Homo sapiens: one gene and its partners. The protein of the gene in region 3 binds, or shares a complex with, the protein of the main gene of each other region. Each region holds a gene or a part of one and is shown on either strand. Other genes may lie near its edges. The genes, in order: NUP205, NUP85, NUP93 and NUP160.

The links.
Region 1: NUP93 (region 3) and NUP205 share a complex: the UniProt entries of both Homo sapiens proteins name them as parts of the nuclear pore complex.
Region 2: NUP93 (region 3) and NUP85 share a complex: the UniProt entries of both Homo sapiens proteins name them as parts of the nuclear pore complex.
Region 4: NUP93 (region 3) and NUP160 share a complex: the UniProt entries of both Homo sapiens proteins name them as parts of the nuclear pore complex.

The regions. Positions count from the first base shown.
Region 1 is NC_000007.14:135,574,903-135,581,929, forward strand, and holds part of NUP205 (nuclear pore complex protein Nup205), read left to right. Parts: intron 1-1,367; coding exon 1,368-1,512; intron 1,513-2,066; coding exon 2,067-2,226; intron 2,227-2,893; coding exon 2,894-3,122; intron 3,123-3,848; coding exon 3,849-4,013; exon of another isoform or gene 4,014-4,024; intron 4,025-7,027. UniProt on the Homo sapiens protein: Plays a role in the nuclear pore complex (NPC) assembly and/or maintenance. May anchor NUP62 and other nucleoporins, but not NUP153 and TPR, to the NPC.
Region 2 is NC_000017.11:75,201,101-75,208,683, forward strand, and holds the start of NUP85 (nuclear pore complex protein Nup85), read left to right. Parts: upstream 1-4,578; 5' UTR 4,579-4,661; coding exon 4,662-4,694; intron 4,695-7,426; coding exon 7,427-7,520; intron 7,521-7,583. UniProt on the Homo sapiens protein: Essential component of the nuclear pore complex (NPC) that seems to be required for NPC assembly and maintenance. As part of the NPC Nup107-160 subcomplex plays a role in RNA export and in tethering NUP96/Nup98 and NUP153 to the nucleus.
Region 3 is NC_000016.10:56,725,428-56,733,128, forward strand, and holds the start of NUP93 (nuclear pore complex protein Nup93), read left to right. Parts: upstream 1-4,701; 5' UTR 4,702-4,784; intron 4,785-7,701. UniProt on the Homo sapiens protein: Plays a role in the nuclear pore complex (NPC) assembly and/or maintenance. May anchor nucleoporins, but not NUP153 and TPR, to the NPC. During renal development, regulates podocyte migration and proliferation through SMAD4 signaling.
Region 4 is NC_000011.10:47,845,331-47,853,017, forward strand, and holds the start of NUP160 (nuclear pore complex protein Nup160), read right to left. Parts: upstream 2,989-7,687; coding exon 2,889-2,988; intron 2,630-2,888; coding exon 2,518-2,629; intron 1-2,517. UniProt on the Homo sapiens protein: Functions as a component of the nuclear pore complex (NPC). Involved in poly(A)+ RNA transport.

The DNA of each region.
Region 1 (7,027 bases), on a different chromosome or scaffold from region 3:
GCTACCAAAATCCTTTTTGACCTAAGCCTGCACTAAAAGAAGTATGATATTGAGAATGAGGGGGATGTTCACTAGACATGCTTGAGTTTTGAGTTTAACTCGGAACTTTCATTTAACAAACATTTCTTCTATACCTACCATGTGCCAGGCATGGTGTTAATTATATCACTCCAGTGATATAAAGATGAATAAAATCTCAACTAGTGTAAATACGCTCATATTCTAATAATTGAGAATGATGTGGAAACAAATATTTTGACACAATTAAGTACAATTAATGCAGTTTTGTGCAAGATTTAGAGATGGTCCAGAGATTTAGAGATGGTATTAGATGGACCTTGATTGTACAGAGAACTCTTAACAACATCATGAAGTTTAAGGTAGATGTTGCAAAATGAGTAAGCATACATCAGGTGGAATAGGTGGTTATTTGGGAGGATGAAGGGCATCCAGGCAGAAGAAATTGCCTGTGCAAGAGGGTGAAGCAAGGTGATGAATTTGGGGAACAGAAAGGAGTAGAGTGGAGGAGTAGTTGCAGTAAGGGGAAAAGAAAGCTTTAGGAAATGAAACTGAAACTATAGGCAAAGTACTCTTAAAAAAAAAGTGAAACTTAGCCAGGCGTGGTGGCTCACACCTGTAATCCCACCACTTTGGGAGGCCAAGGCAGGTGGATCACGAGGTCAGGAGTTCAAGACCAGCGTGGTCAACATGGTGAAATGCCATCGCTACTAAAAATACAAAAATTAGCTGGGTGCTATGGCAAGTGCCTGTAATCCTAACTACTCAGGAGGCTAAGGCAGGAGAATTGCTTGAACCTAGGCGGCAGAGGTTGCAGTGAGATCACGCCACTGCACTCCAGCCTAGGTGACAGAGTGAGACTCCATCTCAAAAAAAAAGGTAGAACTCATTCAAAGGAGAGTAGTTAAAAGGTGACTGAACTTGAATTATAAAAAGGTTGTTTATTCAGAGAAGATTCCGAGGGAAGAAACTTAGAAATATTTGAAAGATTCCATATGAGATAGTAAAATGGGCATTGAATAAAATTAAATTTAGTGGACAACAGTGAGACCAAAAGATTCTCACCCAGTATGTAGAAATCACAGGTAAGTGTGAGAGTTAGAAATTGAGAGTTTGGAAAATGGTGAATTCCATGTCCCTGCTGGTGTTTAGGGATAAGTTGGATGGCCCTCGAATATGTTGAGCAAGAAGTTAGACAGTGGATGGATGTTTGTAGTAGAGGACCCCAGGGCCCCTTAAGCCCTGAGCTACTGTGATTCTTTGAACTGAACATTGTTATATTGATTTTTGTCTCCTCCTAAACACATACGTGTTTATTAACAATATTATTTCTCAACTTCCTTTTTTAGGAGAGCATCAACAGCCACATTTTCCTGGCCTTACCAGAGGATTAGTAGCTGTTCTTCTGTACTGGGATGGAAAGCGATGCATTGCGAATTCCTTGAAAGCCTTGATACAGTCTAGACGGGGAAAGACATGGACCCTAGAACTCAGGTCTTTTTACTTCTTGGGATTTCAGGGGTTAATTTGAAATTACTTGAAGTATGACAATATTTCCCTTATTATATACAATCTGAGCAATATGTAACATAAGCTGAGTAATATACTCCCTTATTCTGCCAAGACAGATATAACAATTTAAACCTGTTTTATTGTGTTTATAAATAAAAAATAATTTGGACCGAGGTGCAGTGGCCCAAATTATTTTTGGATTACAAAGTGCTGGGATTACAGATTACAGTCTTGAGCTCAGGAGTTTTAGATCAGCCTGGGCAACATGATGAAATCCCATCTCTACAAAAAATAGAATAATTAACTGGGCATGATGGCATGCACCTGCAGTCCCAGCTACCTGGGAGGCTGAGGTGGGAGAAAGACCTGAGCCTGGGACGTCAAGGCTGCAGTGAGCCATGATCACGCCACTGCACTCCAGCCTGGGTGACAGAGCAAGGCCCTGTCTCAAAAAAAGAGCGTTTGCTATACCTATTATTATGAAGAAGCATAAACAATATTGTTTAACGTAGTTTATTGATTTCTTTTCATTACAGTCCAGAGCTGGCTTCCATGACAACACGCTTTACAGATGAGCTGATGGAGCAAGGATTGACTTATAAAGTTCTTACGCTGGTGTCACAGATTGATGTGAATAATGAGTTTGAGAAACTACAGCGAGAGAGAGGTTTGGGCAGTGAAAAACATCGCAAAGAGGCAAGGGTTCAATGAAATCAATTCATGAGTTGTCTGTCAAATCTCAGAGGCAGAAACATGACAATTAGAATGTTCATTTTTTCAAGATGAATTATGTAGCTGATACCATGCCTGATTGCCACTTTTCTTTTTTTTTGCTTTTATTATTTTTCATTGACACAAAACTGTACATATGTATAGGGTACAGTGTGGTATTTTGATACATATGTATGATATGTAATAAATCATAATTAGCATATCCATCACCTCAAACGTTTATTATTTCTTTGTGTTGGGAACATTCAAAATTCACTGTACTACTGTTTGACAGTACAGTATACAATAAATTGTTAATTGTAGTCAGCTCGTAATGTATATTAAAGTTTGTAGTCAGCTGTGTCCATAAAATTGACTTGCAGTTGTTTCAGCTTCGGTATAGTCATTTATGTGCCATTCTAGCTCTTTTTATGAAATGAACAAGAAATTGGTCATCCCAATTTCTTAAGGAACTTAAGGATAAGGAATAAACAATAGGGTTTGTTCAGAATTCCAGAGGTGACGTCTTAGGATCACTTGTGGATTTTGATAGGTTTTTTTATTAGCCTTTGTAAAAGGTAGTTTGTACTTTGGAATAAGACCAGGCTTCACTGTAATTTATTTATACTGATAGTCATGTTTTTATTTCTAGGTTTCTGATCTCATTAAGGAGTGCAGGCAGTCTCTTGCAGAAAGCCTTTTTGCCTGGGCTTGCCAGTCACCTTTAGGCAAAGAAGACACTCTCCTCCTCATTGGACATTTGGAAAGAGTGACAGTTGAGGCTAATGGCTCACTGGATGCAGTGAATCTGGCTCTTCTTATGGCGCTTCTATACTGTTTTGATATCAGTTTTATAGAGCAAAGCACAGAGGAACGAGATGGTATTGAGTTTTATACATTTTCCTACATTAAAAAAATCAGATTTAAAATTGTGGGGATAACATTTAAAAAGGGTGATATTTTAGCTACTAAAATAGTCTGCTCTGTTCCTGTGTTTGCAGTCCGTTCATATTTGAATATTTATATATAAGATCACATTTAAAAAACAGCTGCAGTCCTGTTAATTATTTCTGTTTTTTGGGGGGATTTGGAATGGAAAGTATTAAAGCATATATTATACATGTTCATGATTGCACATGCCTAATTTACTTAATTGCTTGTTTCTTTACCATTCATTTACATTTTCAAACTTTTTATTAAAACATTCTGAGACAGTGACTGTCATTTCAGTAATGTAATCTTTGATCTGTGTTTTCTGTGAAGTAAATAAAATTTTTGTGATCTTTAGATAGCATGATTTCTATTTTAGAATTTATGTGCAGAAAAAATGAGTGTCTAACTTTTTTCTTGTTTATTTGTAGTACACTTATAAAAATGACTGAAAATAGTGAAATTGAAATTTAGGATTATTGTCATTTTCTTTTTTTGTTTTTAGTATGTGTACAATCAACAGTAGTGTACCTTTTGGGATGTAGAAATTAATGTTAATTGGTCATTATTCTTCTGTGAGAATGCTCAGATTTTCTGACTTTTGGATATTATTCCTGTGTATCAGAAGTGAGAATTTATCTGGTGATCGGTAAAGTGGTCTATTTTTGTGTTTTCAGATATGATTCATCAACTTCCACTGTTGACAGAAAAACAGTACATTGCAACAATTCACTCTCGTCTTCAGGACTCACAGCTTTGGAAACTGCCTGGGCTCCAAGCCACTGTTAGACTTGCCTGGGCGCTGGCATTGAGGGGAATATCCCAGCTACCTGATGTGACAGGTGAATTGATTGTAGGTAATTTTGTTATGAGAAACAGCATGTTAGCACTTAATGACATTTTTGGAAGGAGTATTATCTTTGACATACATAAGCATAAGCATAGGAAGATATCCAGAGTTGTATTAAATGAAACCTTTAGTGTAGTAGTGAAATACAGACTTTTTTCTCCTTGTCTCTCAAAAATATCATATGAAATACTATTTCCCATTCTTGGAGCCACTGACAATGCTCTTTTACCTTCAGGGTATGAGTTTAAAATTTGGAATGACAGTGTCACATTAATTTTTTTTTTTTTTGAGATGGAGTTTTGCTCTTGTTGCCCAGGCTGGAGTGCAATGGCACAGTCTCGGCTCACTGCAACCTCTGCCCCCCGGGTTCAAGCGATTCTCCTGCCTCAGCCTCCCAAGTAGCTGGGATTACAGGCATGCGCCACCACACCTGGCTAATTGTGTATTTTTAGTAGAAATGGGGTTTCTCCATGTTGGTCAGGCTGGTCTTGAACTCCCGACCTCAGGTGATCCGACTGCCTTGGCCTCCCAAAGTGCTGGGATTGCAACACGTGAGCCACCCCGTCCGGCCTTAAATGTTTTTTAAAATTAAAATATACTATTCCTTTTATTTTTATATATTTTACTTCTTGATTTGTTCACAAACTAGTTTTTCACATTGTGTCAAATTAAAAACAGTTATTTTTCCATACAGTGTATTAAAAAGGAGATATTTGGATCAGTCAAGAACAGATGTGGAATCCCGACTTTTCTTTTTTGTGGCCCAGGCTGGAGTGCAGTGGCTCGATCCCGGCTCACTGCAACCTCCACCTACTGGGTTCAAGTGATTCTCCTGCCTCAGCTTCTTAAGTAATTGGACTACAGGCACACGCCACCACACCCGGCTAATCTTTTGTATTTTTAGTAGAAACAGGGTTTCACCATGTTGGCTGGGCTGGTCTCGAACTCCTGAGCTCAGGTGATCCACTTGCTTTGGCCTCCCAGAGTGTTGGGTTTACAGGTGTGAGCCACCGCGCCTGACCAGAATACTGACTTTTAACAACCTGTTAACTCACTGTAGCATATATTATTCTGCTATTTACATTTACATTATTTAATTGTCATATTAGTAGGGGTTTATTCTAACAGAATGAGAACCATACATGGAACACGAAGCCCAAAGAATTGTCTTTTTATGGTAAATCTAGAAAGGCTTTATTCAAGTTTACAATTTATGTCAGTTTTCTAATCCTAAAGTATCAACAGATTCTAGTATCTTATCAATCGTGTAATTCCAGAACATTTTGTTTTCACTAGTGTCATGCTGTTCCCAAGGTGTTTGCAGAAAGCTTTTTTTGTGTTAGGAGTCTTTCTTTGGCCAGTTAATTTCTATCTGTCTGTCATCTATATATCTAAATGCTGATAGCGAATTAGACTTTTACATTCCCGTACAAATTCTGTTTCTCACCTGTACGTACCCTCATCATTTATAAGTCTTATTTCACTACTTTTCTGACATAAAGTTACCCTTTAACCTTTGAAGTGGCTATGTGATAGTTAATATCTTCTTTTTTTATTTTGGAGATGGAGTCTCGTTCTGTTGCCCAGACTGGAATGCAGTGGCATGATCTCAGGTCACTGCAACCTCTGCCTCCTGGGTTCAAGCAATTCTGCCTCAGCCTCCGGAGTACCTGGGACTATAGTCGCACGCCGCCACACCCAGCTAAGTTTTTGTATTTTAGTAGAGACAGGGTTTCACCGGGTTGCCTAGGCTGGTCTCGAACTCCGGAGCTCAGGCAATCTGCCTGCCTTGGCCTCCCAAAGTGCTGGGATTACAGGCGCGAGCCACCATGCCCAGGTGTGATAGTTAATATATTAACTATATAATATAGTTATACATAGATAGTTATTATAATATTATGTAATATGGTCACAATCTTATGCTATAATTGCCCATACCACTGCACTAGTTTTGAAAGGTTTAATAGAATATGCTATAGTTTGCTGTAGAATAATAGTAAAAATAGGTTAGGAATCACAGCCCTAGTTTCAAGTCCCAGATCTTTGGCTACTTAATCTCTTTGATTTTATATGCTCATATCCTTTTATAAGCTTTAATAGTTAGGGGTATTATAATTAGAATTTTTAAACTATAAAAATTTTTCTGTTAATTTGCATTTTAAAAATTGTTAGAAAAAATGACTAGCTTGTGTTATTTTGCAGAAATGGTCACTTCTTGAAATAATCCAGACAAGTTTTAACGAAGATCTCCAATTTGAAAAATTGGTTTCTGTTCTCTTCATAGACTTCTGAAACTTTTATCAAATGTTTTTATTATATTATTCTATAAAAGGCATGAAGCCAGGTGCAGTGCCTCATGCCTATAATCCCAGCATTTTGGGAGGCCAAGGTGGGAGGATTGCTTGAGCCCAGGAGTTCATGACAAACCTGGGCAATGTAGTGATACCTCATCTCTTCAAAAAATTAAAAATTAGCCCAGTGTGGTGACATGCCCTTGGCTGTAGTCCCAGCTACGCAGGAGGCTGAGGCAGGAGGATCACTTGAGCCCAGGAGAGAGGCTGTAGTGAGCTGAAATTGCTCCACTGCACTCCAGCCTGGGTGACAGAGTGAGATCACATCTCAAAAAAAATTAAAAAAACAAGCATCGGCCGGGTGTGGTGACTCACGCCTGTAATCCCAGCACTTTGGGAGGATGAGGCAGGTGGATCGCTTGAGGTCAGGAGTTCAAGACCAGACTGGCGAACGTGGTAAAAGCCCATCTCCACTAAAAACACAAAAAATTAGCCAAGCATGGTGGCGCGTGCCTGTAATCCCAGCTGCTTGGGAGACTGAGGCAGGAGAATTGCTTGAACCTAGTGGGCAGAGGTTGCAGTGAGCTGAGATCATGCCACTGCACTTTAGCCTGGGTGACAGAGTGAAACTCTGTTTCCAAAAAAAAAAAATCAACAAAAAAACCAAGCATTTTTGTAATTTCACTAAGCTTTACAGAATTTTAGCATACTGTTT
Region 2 (7,583 bases), on a different chromosome or scaffold from region 3:
CTCAGCCTCCTGAGTAGCTGGGACTATAGGTGTGCGCCACCACGCCTGGCTAATTTTTGTAGTTTTCATAGAGACTGGGTTTCTCCACGTTGGTCAGGCTGGTCTTGAACTCCCGATCTCAGGTGATCTGTCCGCCTCAGCCTCCCAAAGTGCTGGGATTACAGGTGTGAGCCACCGTGCCTGGCATTTTTTTTTTTTTTTGAAATGGAGTCGTGCTCTGCCGCCCAGGCTGGAGTGCAGTGGCATGATCTCAGCTCACTGCAACCTTTGCCTCCCGGGTTCAAGCGATTCTCCTGCCTCAGCCTCCTGAGTAGCTGGGACTACAGGCATGGGTCACCATGCCTGGCTATTTTTTGTATTTTTAGTAGAGACAGGGTTTCACCATATTGGTCACGCTGGTCTTGAACTCCTTACCTCAGGTGATCTGCCAGCCTTGGCTTCCCAAAGTGCTGGGATTACAAGCATGAGCCACCGTGCCCAGCCCCAAATAACCTTTTAATAAGAATTCTGCATAAAAATTATTTGTGAGGCACTTCTTTTATTCATTTAAATCTCCTTTTTGGTGCTTATATAAAACACATCTCTCTTGATTATTTCTTGGAAGTGTAATTATGAGGACAAAAAGATGAACATTTTCAAACTTTTTGAAATAATTTTTCATGTCCTGTCAGTCTTCATAGTTATTTTAAACAGGTGAGTAAAGTAACATCTCACTGATATAATTTATTTAGCTAACTTCTACGGTTGAACATATATACCAGCAGCTCTTAACAGAGGTGATTTTGCCCCCTAGAGGACACTGGGAATATATGCAGATATTTTCAGTTTTCACAATTGTGGGATGTTATTGGCATCTAGTGGGTAAAGGTCAGAAGTTGGAGTTCTTGTTCTTGGTGGGGTGTTGTTTTGTTTTGTTTTGTTTTGTTTTTTTGAGTTGGAGTTTTGCTCTTGTTGCCCAGGCTGGAGTGCAATGACGTGATCTCATCTCACCACAACCTCTGCCTCCTGGGTTCAAGCGATTCTCTTGCCTCAGTCTCCCTAGTAGCTGGGATTACAGGCGGATGCCATGAAGCCCAGCTGATTTTTGTATTTTTAGTAGAGACTGTGTTTCACCATGTTGGTCCAGGCTGGTTTCGAACTCCTGACCTCAGGTGATCTGCCCACCTCAGCCTCCCAAACTACTGGGATTACAGGTGTGAGCCACCGCACCCAGCCTGTTTTTTTGTTTTTGTTTTTTTTTTTTCTTTCTGAGACGGAGTCTCCCTCTGTCACCCAGGCTGGAATGCAATGGCATGGTTTTGGCTCACTGCAACCTCCGCCTCCCGGGTTCAAGTGATTCTCCTGCCTCAGCCTCCGGAGTAGCTGGGATTACGGGTGCCTGCCACCATGCCTAATTTTTGTAGTTTTAGTAGAGACGGGGTTTCACCATATTGGCCAGGCTGGTCTCGAACTGCTGACCTCGTGATCCGCCCACCTCGGCCTCCCAAAGTGCTGGGATAACAGGCGTGAGCCACTGCGCCTGGCCATATTGTTGCTTTTGAAACAGGGTCTTGCTGGAGTATAGTGCTATAACAATCGTAGTTCACTGCAGCCTTGACTTGAACTCCTGGGCTCAAGAAATCCTCTGGCCTCAGTCTCCTTCCTCTTGCTGTAGCTAGGGCTACAGGTATGTGCCACTAGTTCCAGCTAGAGTTTTTTTTTTTTTTTTTTTTTTTTTTTTTTTTTTTTTTTTTGAGAGGGAGTCTTACACTGTCGTCCGGGCTGGAGTGCAGTGGTATGATCTTGGCTCACTGCAACCTCCGCCTCCAGGGTTCAAACGATTCTCCTGCCTCAGCCTCAGTAGCTGGGACTACAGGCGCACAACCGCCATGACCAAATAATTTTTTGTATTTTAGTGGAGACGGGGTTTCATCTTGTTGCCCAGGCTGGTCTTGAACTCCTGAGCTCAGGTAATCCGCCCGCCTCGGCCTCCCGAAGTGTTGGGATTATAGGCGTGAGCCACCGCGCCCGGCCTTTTTTTATTTTTTATTTTTTGAGACAGCATCTTGCTCTTGCCCTGTTGCCCAGGCTGAGGCCAGAGATTTTGTTAAATAATGTACACTGTGCCCGGTTCAGGAGCATTAGTTTTATTAGGCTGCATGAAATGTATCCACTTAAGACTTTACCAGGCTGGGTGCGGTGGCTCATGCCTGTAACCCTAGCACTTTGGGAGTCTGAGGCGGGTGGATCACCTGAGGTCAGGCGTTCGAGTCCAGCCTGACCAATATGGCGAAACCCCGTCTCTACTAAAAAATAAAAAATTAGCCCGGCGTAGTGGCGTGTGCCTGTAGTCCCAGCTGCTCGGGAGGCTTAGGCAGCAGAATCGCTTGAACCCGGGAGACGGAGGTTGCAGTAAGCCGAGATCGTGCCACTCCACTCCAGCCTGGCGACAGAGCAAGACTCTGTCTCAAAAAGACAAAAAAAAAAAAAAAAAAAAAAAGACAAAGAAAAAAAAAAGAGAGAGAGAGCTTGTTAGATCTTAGTGCTATATTTCCTTGATTATTTTTATTTTAAGGCTGACAAAATGCCATTTAAGATAATAAAAGTAGTTAAATTGCCTGACCAAGAGCTAGATAACATTGAGGAAAAAGTATTGGCAATATTCTTTGGTCTAATACTGCTATATACCAACCATTTTACCCAATCATTCAAATAGGCTTAGTAATACAAGGGCGAAAAAGGAAAACTACAGCTAATAGTGCTATCCTTGTTCTTTTTTTTTTTTGAGACGGAGTCTCGCTCTGTCGCCCAGGCTGGAGTGCAGCGGTGCAATCTCGGTTCACTGCAAGCTCCGCCTCCCCGGTTCACGCCATTCTCCTGTCTCAGCCTCCCGAGGAGCTGGGACTACAGGCACCCGCCACCACGCCCGGCTGATTTTTTTTTTTTTTTTTTTTTTTTTTTGTATTTTTAGTAGAGATGGGGTTTCACCGTGTTAGCCAGGATGGTCTCTCTCTCCTGACCTGGTGATCCACCCGCCTCGGCCTCCCAAAGCGCTGAGATTACAGGCGTGAGCCACCGCGCCCGGCCTATCCTTGTTCTATATACTGATTACGCATACTATATATGGACCTTTTCCTTCCTCAACCTTTCTATAGATTTCTAAGAATAAGGTTTTGATGAAGTAGTTTATGTATCCTTCTTTTTCAGTTAATCCTAATGGAAAACGGTTGGAAAAATGAAACAATTATCTTACAACTTATTTTTCTCTTTCCTCTCCTCCCCTCTCTCTAAAAGAGTGTGGCTCCTTCCCCTCTCTTTTCCCCTTCCTCTCTCTAGAGTGGTTAACTCTCAAACTGTATTTAACTCTGGAAAAGTTTTCAATTACACAGGCGATAACTCCAACTTGAGGTATAACGGAAACTTATTAAGAGAAAAAGAGCAAAATAATTTTTTTTTGAGACTCAGCAAAATAATTTTTTTTTTTTTGAGACGGAGTCTCCGTCTGTCGCCCAGGATGGAGTGCAGTGGCGCGATCTTGGCTCACTGCAACCTCCGCCTCCCGGGTTGGAACAATTCTCCTGCCTCAGCCTTACGAGTAGCTGGGATTACAGGTGTCCGCCACCACTCCCGGCTAATTTTTGTATTTTCAGTAGAGACGGGGTTTCGCCATGTTGTCCAGGCTGGTCTTGAACTCCTGACCTCAGGTGATCCAACCACCTCGGCGTCCCGGAGTGCTGGGATTACAGGCGCGCGCTACCAAGCACAGCTAATTTTTTTTTTTTTTTTTGAGACGGAGTCTCGCTCTGTCTCCCAGGCTGGAGTGCAGTGGTGCGATCTTGGCTCAATGCAACCTCCACCTCCCGGGTTGGAACAATTCTCTTGCCTCAGCCTTCCGAGTAGCTGGAATTACAGGTGTCCGCCACCACGCCCGTCTAATTTTTTATATTTTTAGTAGAGACGAGGTTTCATCATATTGGCCAGACTGGTCTTGAACTCCTGAACTCCAGTGATCCACCCACCTTGGGCTGCCAAAGTGTTGGGATTAGAGGCTTGAGCCACAGCGCCGGGCCTTCAGGGGTATCGATTTTGTTCCCGTGCCTCTTGTGTGTGTTCTAGTGTGGAAGTGGAGGCGATTGCTTTCCAGCACAAGCCCGTTTGACTGTCGGGGTTTGGACAAGTGGCTGCGACGACACTAAGGTGGAGACCGGGATGTAGCGAGGACTCCCAGAGTTGGGAGACGTTGTACGCTTACTGGGACCTAAATCCCGCACGAGTTCCCACCCAAGTGCCGCCGCCCCAGCCTACGCACGCGCATTCGCACCGTCTCCAGCCCCGGGGTCCTCCTGCCCCTCCCGCCGTCTCCGGGGGCCTTTTCTCCGCTCGGCACCAGGGTGTCCCCGGCGCCGCCTGATCCTGTTAGCGCGGTACTCTGAGTGCAGTCAGTCCTCGGCGCTGTTTTCCCTGATTTGCTGTCGACGCCAGGAAGGAAGGACGCGTGCAGAGGACCGCAGAGGGGTGGCCGTGGCTGAGAGGAGACAGCGCCGCAGCACTGAGGGTTTGGGCTTGCAGGCGCTGCAGGAGACGCCCAGGCGGAGTCTTGTCTCGCAGCCAGCTCTGAGCGGGAGGCCTGAGCGGGAAGCATTGGCGTCCGAGCGACTTCTAGGAGCCTGGGGTTCGGCGCTATGGAGGAGCTCGATGGCGAGCCAACAGTCACTGTAAGGGTACCCCGAACAGGCTTGCTCGTCCTTGCGGGTTGAGAACTGCGTCTGCTTAGTTACTTCAGGCTTGTCTGCTTCCCTAGTGGTCGCGAGGCGCTCGTCCCCTTCCCTCGACTCAGTTGCCACTTTTCCGGAGGTCGCAGTGTTAACGAGGTGCCCGCCCTAGGGTCGCAGTGGTCGCGGGGTTTCTGCCACCAGTCACAAACCCCGGCCTCGAAGGTCCCACTCCGTCCCTTTCCTTCCTTTGTGTTCCTGGCCTTTTTACTTCCCTTGCTTTTCCTCTTGGGCATTAGAGTGGGTTCAGCCCAAGCAGAGGAATTTATATTTTTATTCCAGCCGTATTAAGCTCTGCATCGCGGCACATTGAGCTTCTGCCTGTGTGGCCTAAGGTTTATTCAACGTATTATCTCAGGAGACTATTCCTGTTTTATCGCTGTGCATTCAATTCCATTTGAACTTTGAAGACAGTATGTCAACTGTGGATGATCTGTGATGTGTATAAAAAAAATTCACGCGCTTTATGTACGAGATACCTACCGTTTCTGCTAGTTGGATTGCTCTTGTTTTCCCTCTTGTTAACCAGAAGTGACTGAGGCAGGTCTCAACCGATAAAGGTTTAATTAGCTAAGGTTGAGGATCCAACCGGGAAAAAGCACAGGTCACAGGAGGATCTGAGACCTGTGCTTTTTCCAAAGATGGTTTTGGGAACATCACTAGTTAAAGAGGAAGGAGCTAGCAGGAGGGGCAAAAAAGGGAGGTTAGGCAGTGAGGAGGCAAATGATTACATTCTTGTGAGTCGGTGATTAGCCTCAGTAAATCTGCATTTTACCTGTGAAAAGAGGGAGCAGAGGAAAATTTTATGTATGCATTCATCTCAGGGTAGGTAGAGGGATTATGGTTATTATTACTGTTATTTTTTAGACGGAGTCTCGCTCTGTCTCCCAGGCTGGAGTGCAGTGGCGCGGTCTCGGCTCACTGTAACCTCCGCCTCCCGGGTTCACACCATTCTCCTGCCTCAGCCTCCTGAGTAGCTGGGACTACAGGTGCCCGCCACCACGCCCGGCTAATTTTTTGTACTTTTTTGTATTTTTAGTAGAGACGGGGTTTCACCGTGTTGGCCAGGATGGTCTCAATCTCCTGACCTCGTGATCCGCCCACCTCGGCCTCCCAAAGTGCTGGGATTACAGGCGTGAGCCACCGCACCCGGCCGATTTCTGGTCTTTTACTTGTGAAGATAAGCTGGTAGTTGACATTGTCAGAATCAACAGATCTTGATTTTAGGACTAGTTTATAGGGGCGATGTGTATCCTGAAAATTTTAGAGGCTCACAAGGAATTTCCTTGTGAGCAATTTGTGAGGGAAGCTCTCTGGGGAGATATGTGGCCTTCTTTTTTTTTTCTCTTGAGGCGGAGTTTCCCTCTTGTCGCCCAGGCTAGAGTGCAGTGGTGCGGTCTCGGCTCTCTGCAACCTCCGCCTCCCAGGTTCAAGCAATTCTCCTGCCTCAGCCTCCTGAGTAGCTGGGATTGCAGGCATGTGCCACCATGCCCGGCTAATTTTGTATTTTTTTAGTAGAGACGAGGTTTCTCCATGTTGGTCAGGCTGGTCTGGAACTCCTGACCTCAGGTGATCTGCCGGCCTCAGTCTCCCAAAGTGCTGGGATTACAAGTGTGAGCCACTGCGCCTGGCCTCATTCTTTTTTTGAGACGGATTCTCACTCTGTCACCCAGAGTGGAGTGCAGTGGCGTGATCTCAGCTCACTGCAACCTCTGGCTCCTGGGTTCAAGCGATTCTTCTGCCTCAGTCTCCTGAGTAGCTGAGATTACAGGTGCGTGCCACCACACCCAGCTAATTTTTGTATTTTTGGTAGAGATGGGGTTTCACCATCTTGGTCAGGCTGGTCTCCAAAGCCTGACCTCGTGATCAGCCTGCCTCGGCCTCCCAAAGTGCTGGGATTACAGGCATGAGCCACCGCGCTTGGCTAGGAGTTCGAGATCAACCTGGCCAACATGGTGAAACCCCATCTCTACTAAAAAAATACAAAAATTAGCCTGGTTTGGTGGCGCGTGCCTGTAATCCCACCTACTCAAGAAGCTGAGGCAGGAGAATCACTTGAACCCAGCAGGCAGAGGTTGCAGTGAGTCGAGATTGCGTCACTGCAGTCCAGCCTGGGCAACAAGAGTTCGAACTCCTGACCTCAGATGATCTGCCCGCCTTAGCCTCCCAAAGTGCTGGCAGGAGCCACCCCGCTGCCGGCCCAAAATGAATTTTTCTTACCAGTGTTATAAGGAAATGTTATTGAAGGATACAGTGTTATTAGAGGACCAGCTGTGCTCTTCACTTAAAGTGTTTTTCAGCAGGGCGGGCACGGTGGCTCGCGCCTGTAGTCCTAGCACTTTGGGAGGCTGAGGCGGACGGATCACCTGAACTCAGGAGTTTGTGACCAGCCTGGGCAATATGGTGAAACTCTATCTCTACTAAAAATGAAAAAAAAAAAAAAAATAGCCGGGTGTGGTTGCACACACCTGTAGTCCCAGCTACTCAGGAGGTTGAGGCAGGAGAAGCCTTTGAACCCAGGAGGCGGCGATTGGAGCAAGCTGAGATTACACCACTGTACACCAGCCTGTTAGAGTGAGTCTTTGTCTCAAAAAAAAAAAAAAAAAAAAAAGAATGGAACAACTTCAGTAAGAAGAACATTTTTCATTTTAGATTTCTATGCCTTATTTTACTAGTTGATTCCAGGCGTGAATTCCAAGAAGAACCAAATGTATTTTGACTGGGGTCCAGGGGAGATGCTGGTATGTGAAACCTCCTTCAACAAAAAAGGTAGGGTTTTTTTTCTTCCAAATTATCCATCTTGGCACATTTGGTTGTTTTTCTGTTTATTAC
Region 3 (7,701 bases):
GCTAATTTTTGTATTTTTAGTAGAGATGGGGTTTCAGCATGTTGGCCAGGATAGTCTCAATCTCTTGGCCACATGATACGCCCATCTGAGCCTCCCAAAGTGCTGGGATTACAGGCGTGAGCCACCGTGCCCAGCCAAATTTTTGTATTTTTAGTAGAGACAGGATTTCACCATATTGGCCAGGCTGGTCTCGAACTCCTGACCTCAAGTGATCCGCCTGCCTCAGCCTCCCAAAGTGCTGGGATTACAGGCATGAGCCACCGTGCCCAGCTGAACCTTACTTTAAAAAATGTTTTAATAGACATTTTTTTAGAGCAGTTTTAGGAGCACAGCAAAATTGAGCCAAAGGTACAGCGATTTTTCACATACCCCCTGCCTGTACACACGCCTAGCCTCTCCGATTACCAACATCCCCCACCAGAGTGGTACATTTCTTACAACTGATGAGCCCATTTGATGCATCATGATCACCCAGTCTGTAGTTTACATTAGGGTTTACTCTTGGTGTTGTACATTCTGTGGGTTCAAGCAAATTTGTAATGCCGTGTATCTAAAAGCCTCATCTTTTTAATAATTAAAGTTGACCATTGTCTTCACTGAACTTACACAGAAACAAAACCATGCAATATAATTCTGTATTCCTTGCCAAGTTACAATGTCATTGTGGAACAAAATGCAATGAACATGAAAATAAGACTTTCTCAGCTTCTTTGTAAATGGAACTGTTTAATATTATTTTGTTAATGGGTAGAATAAAATGTAATCTGATGGTGAAAACATTCTTCTTGACATTGTGGAAAATACCTCCCTATATTGCATGTGATGGAAAAGCAATTCGACTGGGAAAAGTTTACTGAATTAAGCTTACTGAATTCTGGCCTATTGACCTTATAATAAGCATGTTAGATGAGACGTTATAAGGGCTCAAGTAATACCTGCATCCTTCAGGATTATTTTGATTGCAAGTGATGTAAAACCTCAGTGAAATTGAGCAAAAAATAAAATTTTCTGGGTCATGCAACAAAACATTCCAGGGTTAGGGTTAGCTTTAGGCACAGCTTGATCCAGAAGCTGTGTCACAATGTCACTTGAGTACAGGCTCTCTCTCCATCACTACATGGCTCTCTTCTGTATTGTCTTCCTCCCCAGACAAATTCTTCCCTTGTGGACAATAAACAAACAGGCCGGGCATGGTGGCTCATGCCTGTAATCCCAGCACTTTGAGAGGCCAAGGAGGGCAGATCACTTGAAGTCAGGAGTTCCAGACCAGCCTGGCCAATATGGTGAAACCCCGTCTCTACTAAAAATACAAAAATTAGCTGGGTGTGGTGGCATACACCTGTAATCCAAGCAACTAGGGAGCCTGAGGCACAAGAATCACTTGAACCTGAGAGGCAGGGGTTACAATAAGCCAAGATTGTGCCACTGCACTCCAGCCTGGGCAACAGAGTGTAACTCTGTCTCAAAATAAACAAACAAACAAACAAACAAACAAAAATTTGAAAGGAATGATAATGCCTACAAAAACATCTTCACAGTTCTAATTTATTCCAGTCATAAAGATAAGTGTCTGAGCAGAACATCTTAAGAGTGCATTTTCTTGATCCTATTGGGTTCTAAACCAGTTCCTGAACCAGTCCCTGTGGCCAGGGTACTGCACTACTCTGCTCTGATTGGCGAGGCCTGAGTCACATGCCACCAATCAAAACACAGGGACTGAGATTTGGGGCAGGAACGCTCCACAGGGGAGTCCAAGTGTTAAAAGACGTCCCATTAGAGAGCAAATGTCTGGTAATACGGTATAGTGCGTTGAATACACATCCCATATACTCAATGAGTTCATCTGAAGACTAAGAATATTCAAAAGCACAATTCAACCAGACGAGAGTACAAAGGCCTGTGTTTGTTTGATATCATCATGCAGCCAAAAAAGGTAGAGTTATACACTTGGTATGTATAGAAGACATGCAAAATCTGTGTTACAATACAGGGTTCCATCAAATACTTCCTTTGAAAAACAGGATTCTGTTAAATAATGTTTGGGACCCAGTAGGACTAAATGAGGGAAGGTAAGGACTCTCCACCACCACCCAGCTCCCTTTTAAGTAGGAAAGAGCTTGAAAATCCCCACCTCTGAGAAAGGGGCCTTGCGGGGGCTCTGGGGCACATCTCAGAACAATTCTCAAGGCAAAGGCTCTTGAAAGATTCTGAGCTCAGATAAAGTGATGTTTAAGGAAGCTCTTCTGGCAAGGCATGAGCCAATGCACCCAGTTCTCTTAAAAACAAGAAAACAAAAAACAAACCAAAAAAACCAAATAATATATTGTTTATGCACAGATACATTTGTGATAAAACTATAAAACATTGGAATGATAAATATGAAATGTCAGATTGTGGTTATCTCTGGGGATAGGAAGGTATATGGGAAGACCATCTGGAAAACTGCAAGGTTTTTTAAGATGAGGTGTCACTCTGTTGCACAGGCTGGAGAGCAGTGGCACGACCAGGGCTCACTGCAGCCTTGACCACCTGGGCTCAGGTGATCCTCCCACCTCAGCCTCCCCAGTAGCTGGGACTACAGCTGCACACTACCATGCCCAGCCAATTTTTTTGTATTTTTTGTAGAGACAGGGTTTCACCATTTGCCCAGGCTGGTCTTGAACTCTGAGGCTCAAGCTACCCTCTTGCCTCAGCCTCCCAAAGTGCTGAGATTACAGGCGTGAACCACTGTGCCTGGCCACTTTTTCCATTTAACATTATGTTTCCAAGATTCATCCATGGTGTATCTGTGGCTGAAGCACACTCATTTTTCACTGCTGTGTAATGCTCCATTGCATAATATCCCACAATTTATTTATCCTTTTTTTTTTTTTTTGGTTAACAGATATTTGGCTTGTTTCAAGTTTTTTGCTAATATGAACTGTGCTGCTATGAAGATTCTTACTTATAACTCCTGGTGCATATGTGTAAGAGTTTCTCTAGGGCATATATCTAGGAGTTGAATTACTGGGTTTTACAATGTAGAAATATTCAGCTTTAAAAGGCAAGTGTCCGGAATTTTCATTTGGCAATATTGCACAAGCATTTGTCTATGTCATTAAAAGTGCTTTTTTTTTTTTTTTTTACATAAAGAAAAAGCAAAGTAAAAGTATAAAACATTATTCAGATGCAAGATACTATTATCTTTGTGGATATTCTCTGACCATAGCGGGGTCTGGTTACATATATAATAGCTTCAGGGCAAAGGCCACATTCATACATATTGTTAATCAGCACCAATTATTTATAGAGAACTCACAATATGCTGGTGTGAGGTATTAAAAATAAACAAAGCTGGACACTAGTTGCTATAGACTTCTTAATGTTTGTGTCCTCCCCCTTCAAATTTATATGTTGAAACTCTGCTCTCCATTGGGATGGTATTAAGAGGGGAGGACTTTGGTAGGTGATTGGGTCATGAGAGTGAAGCCCTCATGAATGGGATTAGAGCCCTAATAAAAGAAATATTGGAGAGCTCCCCTCACCCTTCTGTGTGTGGTTACAGGGAGAAGAGTGCTATATTAGTCCGTTCTCATGCTGCTGTGAAGAAATACCTGAAACCAGGTCATTTATAAAGAAACGAGGTTTAATTGACTCACAGTTCCGCATGGCTGGGGAGGCCTCAGGAAACTTATAATTATGGTGGAAGGCACATGTTCACAGGGCAGCAGGACAGGGAATGAGTGCAAGCAGGGGAAATGCCAGACGCTTATAAAACCACCAGATCTCATGAGACTTACTATCGTGAGAACAGCATGCCAGAAACTGCCCCCCATGATCTGGTTACCTCCACCTGGTCTCACCCTTGATATGTGGAGATTATGGGGATTATAATTCAAGGTGAGATTTGGGTGGGGACACAGAGCCAAACCATATCAAGTGCTATCTATGAATTAGGAGGCAGGCCCTCAGCAGACACTGAATCTGCGGGTGCTTTAATCTAAGGCTTCCCAGCCTCTAGAACTGTGAGAAAAAAATTTCTGTTGTGTATAAGCCATCCAGTCTATGGATGAGTCTGACCCCACTTGTCCCTACTCACCATCTTCCAGCCGCACACCCCTTCTTTCTAGTCTCCAAACACTAAGCTGGCTTCCCCTGGAGACTTCACTCTTGTTCCCTCTGCCTGGAATTCTTTGAAGCCAGAACTTTGCAAGCCCCATCCTTTCTCATCCTTCTTTATTCAGCTCAAGATGTCGCCATCTCAGAAAGGCCTCCCTTCAACATCCAAGCATTCTCTCTCCCATCACCCTGTTTTTTCTTCATAGCTCTTCTTGCAAAGTGCAGTTATTTATTACATTTTTGTTTCCCCTGCCAACCTGGGAACTCAATGAGGGCAGCGATCTTGTCTGACGTGGTCGCCACGGTGTTGCCAGTTCCTAGACTAAGGCCTGGCCCTTGGATGGCGCTCAAGAAGGAGTAAGAAATTCCTTTAACTTAGGGAATTCTGGAATCGCTTTCTCCCGGCAGAGCCGACTCTAACCAAGTGGGAAAGGCGAGGTCCGTGGCTGCCTGTGGCCCAGGGGTGACGGTTTGGCCCAAGGCCCCACCTCCGCCCCGCCCCCGGCCCCGCCCCTGTTCTTGTCCTCCCCCACGGGTCTCCATAAAGTTCATTTGGCGTCGCACCGCGCGAGGGCTTCTGGGAGCGGCCAGCCTTGGCCAATCAGGAAGCGGGGGAGAGCGGCGCGAGAAGCGGCGGCCGCGTCCTCAAGCCGGCACCTGAGCGGCGGAGACGGCTGTAGCACAAGGTAAGGGTGTGTCTGGTCGCGTCCTTGCGACCCTGGGCTTGTCCTTGAACCCAGGACCCCGTGACTGGGTGGAGCGCCGTCCCCACGCTCGGAACCCCGCCGCTCATACTTCCCGTTCTCCTCATGGCAGCCGGGCACGCCTGACGCCGGCGACACAACGCCTTGTCGAGCCGCCCCCGAGGCTTGGAGTCGGGCTGCATCCCTGGGGGTGCCTTTCATTCGTCCACTTTCTGAATGCAGAACCTAGGCCTCCCGACTCCCCCTTCCCCACTGTGGTGCCCTCGCGCCACGCCCCTGCCCTCACCTCCACCTCGTGCCCCGCGAGCCCACCCTGCCTAAGCCTGCGCCACAACGCCCCGCCTGCTTACCTTCCTGACCGTGCCCTGCCTGCTTGCCTACCCCTCGTGGACACACCCTGTAGGGAGGCGTTGCTCTGCGAGGGAAGGGGTCTTTGGGGCGAGGGGAACTTATCCCAACCCTTGGCTTACCTTTTGTACATCCAGGAGGATGCTGGTGATTGGAACCCAGGGGTGGCCCACCCTTCTCTGTGCTTACTCCATCCCGTTCCCTGCAGAGGCGATGCCCAAGTTCACTGGGTTTCTTTTGAAAAAATTATGGGGCCGACCCCATGGGTCCTTGGTGAAAGTATGAAAGACACGTTGACAGAGCCTCTGGTCTGGATTTGCCCTTCTGCCAGACGTGGGAAGGAGGTTTTATTTATTTAATTTTTATTTTGACCGAGTTGTCTTTCAGCAAAAGCGAGGGTCACCTTTTTGTATTCTTTCCAGGGTATGTGGGAGGGTATCCTCGGTCATCCTAGCTTTTCTTCTTTATTTTTTTTTCTTTAAATTCTCCTTTGTGCATTTGTGTTTGCAATATTTTTATTTTCATTGATGGTGATTTCATAGCATTAAATACATACATATCAGAGGCTAACAGATTCCGTATTTATATCTCCATCGCAGGTCTCACCCCTGACTTTTATCCAGCCACCCACTTAATATCTCCACTGAGATGGGTTATAGGCAACTCAAATTAAACATGCCAAGAGAGGGCTAGCAAGCTCCCCTTCATTACTCTCCCCAAACTGCTCCTGTTGCCTCTTTTTTCTCATCTCAATAATAGGAAAGACCTTGGCTAATAACTTTTGAGCCATCGTTGACTGCTGTCTTTCTTTTTCTTTTCTTTCCTTTTTTTTTTTTTCTTTTGAGACAGTCTCCCTCGGTCGCTCAGTCTGGAGTGCAGTGGTGCGATCTCGTGTCATCGTGTGACTGCAACCTCTGCCTCCCAGGCTCAAGTGATTCTCCTACTTCGGCCTCCCAAGTAGCTGGGATTACAGGCGTGTACCACCTCACCTGGCTAATTTTTGTATTTTTAGTAGAGACGGGATTTCACCATGTTGGCCAGGCTGGTCTTGAACTCCTGGCCTCAAGTGATCCGCCCATTTCGGCCTCCCACAAAAGTGTTGGAATTACAGGTGTGGGCCACCACACCCAGTCTTCTGTTTTTCACGCCACAAATAATACTTGCCACCCTGGGCCAGGTCACCACCTCTGGTTTGGATTATTGAAATAGTTTCCCATTTGGTCTTCCTGCTTCTGTCCTGGCCCCTGTTTTTTGCACAGCAGCTAGAGGGATCTTTTTAAAACACAGGCTGTCAGATCGTATCATTCCTTTACTTAAAAGAAAAAAAAAACCCTCCAATGGGTCCCCATCTCATTAATAATGATAGACAAACCCCTTTACAGTGAGCTATAAGGCTTTACATAATCTGACCCACTGTTACTTTCCCAGTCTCATTTTCTGCTCCCTCCCTTTCCAAACGTCAGACATGCTTTAGCCTCAGGGCATTTGTGCTTGCAAGTTAATATCCATGTAGTTTGCACTCACTTCTTCCAGGTCTTCACTAGGGAGGCACCTAGTGAGGCTTTCCCCATTTCCCGCCTCCCTTCATTGCTTTAGTTGTTCTTAGCACTTATATTTCACGTATTTTTCTTGTGTATTGTTGTCTTCCCCCTGTAGAATGTGAGTGAGGGGATTTTTATCTGTTTTGTTCACTGATGTGTTCCTAGCACCTAGGTCTGGCACACAGTAGGTGCTCAAAAAATATGAACTAGATGAATGTTACTGGCACTCTTGCAGGCATGGGGATGCAGTGGTGAATGAGACAGGCCTGCCCTCATTGAACTGATAAGCCTGTGGAGGGTACCACTAGCAATAAAAGCACAGATAGGAAGTGTGATGTCAGGGCTGTTTCTTAAAGGAGGACAGGGATATTTGAATAGAGACCTGCTTGAAATGAATGAGCAGGTCATGGGACTATCTGAGAGCATTGCTGGTAGTGGGTAGAGCAGGTGCAAAGACCGTGCAGTGTGAACAGCTGGAGATGTGGTGAGCCTGAGGGTCTGAACCAGCCTCTTCATAGACTGATGTAGAAAATAAGGTTGACAGAAAGATGGATGTGCCAAGGAGGGGGACAGGTTGGAGCAAAGATCCGAAGGTGAGAGGGCCCACTCCTCATGAAAAAGTTTATTTAAAGAATATGGAGTTAGAGGGAAGATCTTTCACTGGTGTGTTCAGGGAACAGGTCACTTTAATTCAACAAATATGTATCTGATCCTGTTATGTGCCAGACTTAATGCTGAGGACTCAGAGTTGAGCATCTGTGGACCTTACCCTATAGGAAATTTGCCACTAGAGAGGGAGACATATGTGTGATGAAATAATCACAACTGCTGCACTAGGGAAGAACAGTATAGAAGATTCAGAGTAGTGTGGGAGGGGTTGGCATAGGTGGGACTTTCCCAGCTGGCTGCAGCATACATAGGAGTTCCCCATGTGACAAGATAGGGTTGGGGATGTGTTATAGAGAGTGTGTACTTAGCATGTACAGGAGTATGAAGGGAGGAAACAGGCA
Region 4 (7,687 bases), on a different chromosome or scaffold from region 3:
GGTTTCACCATGTTGGTCAGGCTGGTCTCGAACTCCTGACCTCAGGTGATCCACCTGCCTCGGCCTCCTAAAGTACTGGGATTACAGGTGTGAGCCACCATGCCTGGCTTCCTTTACTTTCTTAATAAACTTGCTTTCACTATGCACTGCGGACTTGCCCTGAATTCTTTCTTGTGCGAGATCCAAGAACCCTCCCTTGGGGTCTGGATCGGCACCCTTTTCCTGTAACAAAACTGCATGTACTTGGGGTTTTTTGGTTATTGTTGTTGTTGCCTATCTTCCTCCATAAGAGTAGGGACTTTGTTTTGTTCCCTGCTATATCCCTGTTCCCTAAAAACGGACTGAAATACATTAGGCAAGCAAATTTTCTTTCTTTCTTCCTGTTTTCTTAAAAGAGATGGGGTCTTACCCTTTTTCCCACCTGGAGTGCAGTGGCATGATCGGATCCTCCCACCTCAGCCTCCTGAGTAGTTAAGATGAAAGGCACACGCTACTCCGCCTGGCTTATTTTAAAAAATCAGGCTGGACACGGTGGCTTACGCCTGTAATCCTAGCAAGTTGGGAGGCCGAGAACGGGGCACTGCTTGAGTCTGGCAGTTCAAGACCAGTCTGGACAACAAGGCAAAACCCCATCTCTACAAAAACAAATAGAAAAATTAGCTGGGCATGGTGGTGCATACTTGTAATTCCAGCTACTTGGGAGGCTGAGGTGGGAGGGTCACTTGAACCCAGGAGGCGGAGACTGCAGTAAGCCATAATTGCACCAATGCACTCCAGCCTGGACAATGGAGCCAGACTGTCTCTCAAAAAGAAAAAAAAAAAAAAGCAGAAAGAAAAAAAAATTTTTTTTGTAGAAATGGGGTCTTGAACTCCCGGCCTCAAGAGATCCTCCCACCTCAGCCCCCCAAAGTGCTGGGATTACAGGTGTGAGCCACTGTGCCCAGCCAAAATATTTAATTAAATGAAATTTGTATCTCTAACATAAAGTCACTCTTTTGAGCCTTAGACCTGTAAACTTCAATGCCTACTTGACATTTCCAAAGGGCTGCTCCCCAGGTACTTCAAATTTACTATGTCCAATAGAATTATTCATATCTATCCAAAATCCATCTTCCGGGTATCTCTGTAAATGGCAACCCCTCCCCACTCACATCTGGTTAGTCACATGAGACACCAGGGAGCTGTCCTTGTTCTCTCTTCTTTTACCATCCCTTACCCCATATTCAATCCACCACCAAGCCCTAGTGAATCTATCTTCCAAAGGTATCTTGAATCCATCTACTTTTCTATTTCTAGTCATTCCCACAATTGAGCCACCAGCAACCCTTACTTGGGCCATGATAAAAGCAAAATTTTTTTTGTATTATACCCATCTAATCCAAATCCACTTTCCACAAAGTAGACTGAGATCTTCTAAAAATACATTTAAAAAAATTTAGATTCAGGGGTACATGTGCAGGTTTGTTACATGAGTATATTGTGTGTATATTCCTATATACATGAGGTTTGGGCTTCTGATGATCCTGCCGCCCAAGTTGTGAACACAGTATCCGATAGGTTTTCCAACCTTTGCTCCCCTCCCTCCCTCCTTTTGGAATCCCTAGTGTTAACTGTTCCCATCCAAAAATGCAATTTTGATGTTAGTAACTCTTTAAAAATCTTTCAATTATTACTCAATGTACTTAGGATAAAATCCAAAAATCCTTAAAAATGGCCTAAGGGTCCCTCATGGTCCGAGTCCTGCCTACCTCTCCAGCCTCAGTATCTCACATCACTTTCTGTTTTACCCACTGCACTTAAGCCACACAGATCTTTGGTCAGTTCCAAACCCGCCACATTCTTTCCACTTCATGACCTTTGCATATGGTGATCCTACTTGCTGGACTCCTCTCTGTCCACTCCCCATGCCTGGCTAACCTCGTGTCCTTTAGATCTCAGGGTAACTGTGAATTCCTTAAAGCCTTTCCCTGCCCCACTAATTATATTTGGTCCTCTTATTAGCCTCTCATAACCCGTATATTTTTCCTCTAGGGCAAGTTTTCCTCCAAAAAATTTCCCCATGAAAAGTGGGTCTACATCTATTCTGACATTGCTACAACGTCTTGCATGATGAAAATTGCAGTTTTGTTCATTTCGTCCTGGTACCTAGCACAATGCCTGACATATTGAAGCTCGAACGTATTTGTACAATGAAGGAAGCTGTAAAGCACTATAAAAACATAACGGGTTCATGTTTAAAATTGGTCTTATGGGCTTTATTCCCCTAAGCTACATTTCCTCTGCTTCTGGTGTTGCTTGGTGTATGTGTGTGTGGGGGTGGGGGGGGGGAGGGGGAGAGGTATCTCTTCTAGAACTCTGTGTCTCAGTTTTCCCGATTCTGATACGAACTGAAAAAACAATCTTTCTCTTTCCCTAAGTGTCAATTACCGCTTCTAGAATAGCACTTTGGGTACAGCGACGAAAATTTATACACCAAACCCTACCTTCCAGGGGAGTTTGGCGAACCACAACACTTACCAATGAATGAACCTGTTTCTGGTTACGGAGAACAACTTGCCACTCTCCACGTAGTAAAAGCCTCCCGCGCTTTCACTGTATTTTACGGCGCCAGCCACGGCATTTGCAGTCCCTGCAAAATGAACGTGGTCAGCCTGCACACGCGTCTTCTGAGAAATGACAGGGACTAAGGGAGCTGACAAAGCAGAGAGTGACAGACTGACAACCCATACAAAGAAAAGAGGAAAACGTCGGACATCAAGGAATCTCTGATCCCGGGGCTAGAGGCATGTGGACTCAGGAGGATGAAACAGGGCGTCAGGGACCCTGGGACCCATGAGAGGAGCCCGAGGGGACAGATGGGATCGCACCCTCCCTGGCCATTTCCGTACCAATGCTGCAGACTGTGAATTCCCGAAAGTGCCTCGGCCTTTCGCGCTCAGCTCCGCTTAGCTCCACGAAGCTCCGTTCCAGGGCTCCCGCCGCCGCCATCTTCCCGCCGTCGCCGCGACGCCCAACGGAACAAAGGCAGGGCCGCGCGGTCGCCGTCACTTCCGGGGGTGGGGCGGGCGGAGCTGCGGACAGGTGAAGCATTCCGGGAGCAGAAAGGCGGCTCCGGCCCTTCGTTGCGAGGCTTCCACCGGGAGAATGAGGGTGGGCAGCGAGGAATCCAGAAGAGAAGGGGGCAGGGGAGGCAGACTCTATCTGCGGGAACCTTCCAGTGGCCGGCTGGAACGCCTCCGGAGGGCGGTGCTCTTTTCTCAGCGGCCGCAGGGCAGGGGGCGGGGCCGGGTTTGTTTCTGTTTCTAAAACGCGGGGCTCAGTCGACCAGGAGGGGCGAGGTCCGGGGAGTCCCGGCCTTTCGGCGTCCTCTGCCGGATCCCGGGTTTATGGTCACCTCTCCCTCGGTTAGGGTGTCCGTCTGTAAATCTTTGGCGATCCTCCCTTCGCTCTTCAGTGGCGACACTTGGGATGGCGGGGTGAGGAAGGGGTAGTGAGGGAAAGGCCTTTGGTTTTGGTCTTTCCCCTCCCCAAGAGACTGTATTCGTGTATTCCTGTATAATGAAACGTAATGTGGTAAACCTTGGTGCTGCCACTTGCTGAGGTTACCTGAGTGCTACTCACTTGGATACGTGAAAGGAATTTGCCATTCCTTCCACCCGTGATCTTGCACTTGGCTGTCAATGCAGTAAGGGCCCATAGTGGGTGTTTAGAAGATATTGTGGGAGTAGATGTTCAAAATCGAGGAAAATGCTAATCTCCAGCGGGGAAGGTTTTGTTCCTTAGTGATAGCCAATAGAAGTTAAAGCACTTCTATTACCAGTGACCACAACCATTCCCTGTCATTCTCCGTTTCATTTATCTGGTTCCGACCATCATTTTCTATCTTTCCACTTCACTCCCTCTGGGACACCAACTTTGGCAGTGCAGTCCCCTCATTCTACCTGGAATCCATTGTTCTACAAAATCTTCACTGTCCCACACTTCTTTGGTGTTTCTTTCTTATCCTGAATACCATTAAATTACTTCATTGCCTAACTCTTCATCGGTAAAAACTACAACTTCGACTACATTCAAATCTGTAGCTGAACATGACTGGAGAAAACTATACACCCGGGTCGGGCGTGGCTCCCAGCATTTTGGGAGGCCAAGGCGTGAGGATCACTTGAGGTCAGGAGTCCGAGACCAGCCTGGCCAACATGGTGAAACCCGGTCTCTACCAAAAATAGAAAAATTAGCCGGGCGCGGTGGCTCACGCCTGTAATCCCAGCGCTCTGGGAGGCAGAGGTGGGTGGATCACGAGGTAAGGAGTTTCAGACCAACCTGGCCAACATGGTGAAACCCTGTCTCTATTAAAGATACAAAAAATTAGCCGGGCATGGTGGTGCACGCCTGTAATCCCAGCTACTCGGGAGGCTGAGGCAGGAGAATCGCTTGAACCTGGGAGGTGGAGGTTGCAGCGAGCCAAGATCGCGCCACTGCACTCCAGCCTGGGTGACAAAGCGAGACTGTCTCAAAAAAAAAAAAAAAAAGAAGAAAGAAAAAAAGAAAAATTAGCTGGGCATGATGGTGCGCTCATGTAATCCCGGCTACTTGGGAAGCTGAGGCAGGAGAATCGCTTGAACCCGGAAGGTGGAGGTTACAGTGAGCCAAGATCTCGCCGTTGCACTCCAGCCTGGGCAACAAGAGCGAAACTCCGTCTCAAAAAAAGAAAAGAAAGAAAACAGAAAACTATACACCCATACTGACATGCCTCCCTGTAACTCCATCAGGACCATGTACCTTGAGTGGGCCCATAATGCTGCCCAGCAAACACATTGTATTTGCCTTCTCCATTTACTGTTCTAAATGAATATTTCATAACTCCTATAACCTCCATTGCCTCCTTTGTCATCCTGACTCTCAGCTTGCTTCTTCATTTAGAAAATTAAAGCAGAGGCTGAGATGGAAGGATGGCTTGAGGCCAGGAGTTCAAGACAAGCCTGGGCAACATACCCCCATCTCTAATAAAAATTTTTAAAAAACTAGCCAGGCATAGTTGTGTGCCTCTGTAGTCCCAGCTATAGGAGGTTTCTTGAGCCCAGGAGTTGGAGGATACAGTGAGCTACAATCCTGCCACTGTGCTCCAGCATGGCCAGAAAGACACCCATCTGGAAAGAAGGAAGGAGGAAGGGAGGACTTCCTCTATAATGACATCTCCCCACCTACCAGCATCTGTAACCACATATTTTGCCTTCCCTTCCTGTTACTATAAACTGTCTCTGAGCTTATGCAGAGACAACCTTTCTACTTCCTTAGAACACCTGCTCAAGGACATCATTCTAGCAATTCAATTATTTCCATTTTCAGTCTTTTCCCCTTTTCTCTTAGTACTGTATGTACTAAGCATACAAACATTCCCTCGACCTCCACTCTCTGCAGCTACTACTCCATATCTCTTCTCCTCTCACCCACAGCAAAACTCAAGAGTGTTTTAATTCCTTCTCTCTCATTCTCATATATATATATATATATATATATATATATATATATATATATATATATATATTTTATTGAGATGGAGTTTCGCTATTGTTGGCCAGGCTGGAGTGCAATGGCACAATCTCGGCTCACTGCAACCTCCGCCTCCTGGGTTCAAGAGATTCTCCTGCCTCAGCCTCCCAAGTAGCTGTGATTACAGGCATGCGCTGCCCTGCCTGGGTAATGTTTTTTGTATTTTTAGTAGAGACAGGGTTTCACCATGTTGGTCAGGCTGGTCTCGAACTCCTTACCTCAAGTGATCCACTTGCCTCGGCCTCCCAAAGTGCTGGGATTACAGGCGTGAGCCACTGCATCTGGCCTCATTAAATCCATGTTTTTCAGGCTTTTGCTTCTACTGCCTTGCTGAAACTGCTTTTTTCCGGGTTATCAATGGCATCCACATTATCTGTCTAATACTAAACTGCTATTTCTTTTTTCTGACACATAATCTTGCTCTGTTATCCAGGCTGGGGTGCAGTGATGTGATCCCAGCTCATTGCAGCCTCAAACTCCTGGGCTGAGGTGATCCTCCTGCCTCAGCCTCTCGAGTAGCTGGGGCCACAGGCTTGTGCCACCATGCCCTGCCAAATTTTTTATTTTTTATTTTTTGTAGAGACAAGGTCTTCCTATGTTGCCCAGGCTGGTCTCAAACTCCAGGCCTCAAGCGATCCTCCTACCTCTGCCTCCCAAAGTGCTGGGATTACAGGCGTGAGCCACAGCACCTGGCCTGAACTGTTATTTCTAAGCTTATTTGACTACTTGTAGAATTTGACCAATTGCTTGCTCCTTCCTCGTGGAAACACATTCTTCATGTGGCATCAAGGACGCCACTCTCTTGATTCTACCTATTTCACTAACTGTTCCTTTTCAGACTCCTTTCCTAGATGCTCCTCTTTTCCCCAACCTCTTGATGTTGGAGTGTCCAGAGTTCAGTTCTTGGTCCTTTCCATCTACAAACACTCCCCTGAGAATCTCACCCAGTCTTCTGGCTTTAAATACTGCATTGTTATATGCCGATCATCCCCAAATGTATACCTCCAGTCTAAGCTTCTCCCCCGAAGTCCAGGTTTATATATTCAACGGCCTATTTTGTATCTTAGATGTAACATGTCTGAAACTGAAGTCCTAACCTCTCTCCCCACACTTACTTTCCCCATCGCAGTTACCAGCACTGTTCCAGTTGCTCAGCCTCCTGAGTAGCTGGGATTACAGGTGCTTGCCACTACGCCTGGCTTATTTTTTTTGTATGTTTAGTAGAGATGAGGTTTCACAGTGTTAGCCAGGATGGTCTCAATCTCCTGACCTCATGATCTGCCTGCCTCGGCCTCACAAAGTGCTGGGATTACAGGTGTGAGTCACCGCGCCTGGCCACACTTCAACTGTTATTATTTACAAATTCCTGGTTATCTAAGTTATAACTGCTCATGACACTGATGTGCCACAGTAGAGAGAACTATTCCGAAGACTGATTATTTCCACTTTCATATCTAGAGGTCAGACCTCTTTTGCCGAGTTCTCAGCCTTTTATATTCAGTTGCCTCCTTGATGCCCCTTGGATTTCCCATGGACATCTCAAATTCAACATATCCAAAATGTTACCCCTCTCTATATAGTCTCACTATATACTCTCACATGTAGTCTATATCTGTGTGGACATCACCACTGTGGCCCAGTCTAGAAATCTAGTAATTACCCTGGACTTTTCTCTTTTAATCCCAACACCCAAATCTCATATATCCATATGGCAAAAGAAAGATGGCCACAAATTCTTTGACATTGTTCCCATCCAGAAGTGTAGCCTTCTTTGTCCCCTCCCCTTAAATCTGGAGGGTTCTGTAACTGCTATAAGGAATATAATACAGCAAAAGTGATGCTGTGCCAGCCTAGCTTAAGAGAGTCTACATCTCTCTTTGAAGACTGGCTATAGGGGAAGCAAGCTGCCATGTAAGAAATTTGGCTACGCCGGGGCCATCCTAGGCAGATTGCAGGGAGAGACCACACACAGAGACTCTAATTCTACTTGAAGTGAGAGATGCCTGGTAAGTCCCCAGGTCCCAGATATTTTGTAGAGCACAGATGAGTCATGACCACTGAGCCCTGTCCAAATTGCATATTAATGAGCTAAATACATGATTGCTATTTTTATTTTTATTAAATTAAATTAATTAAT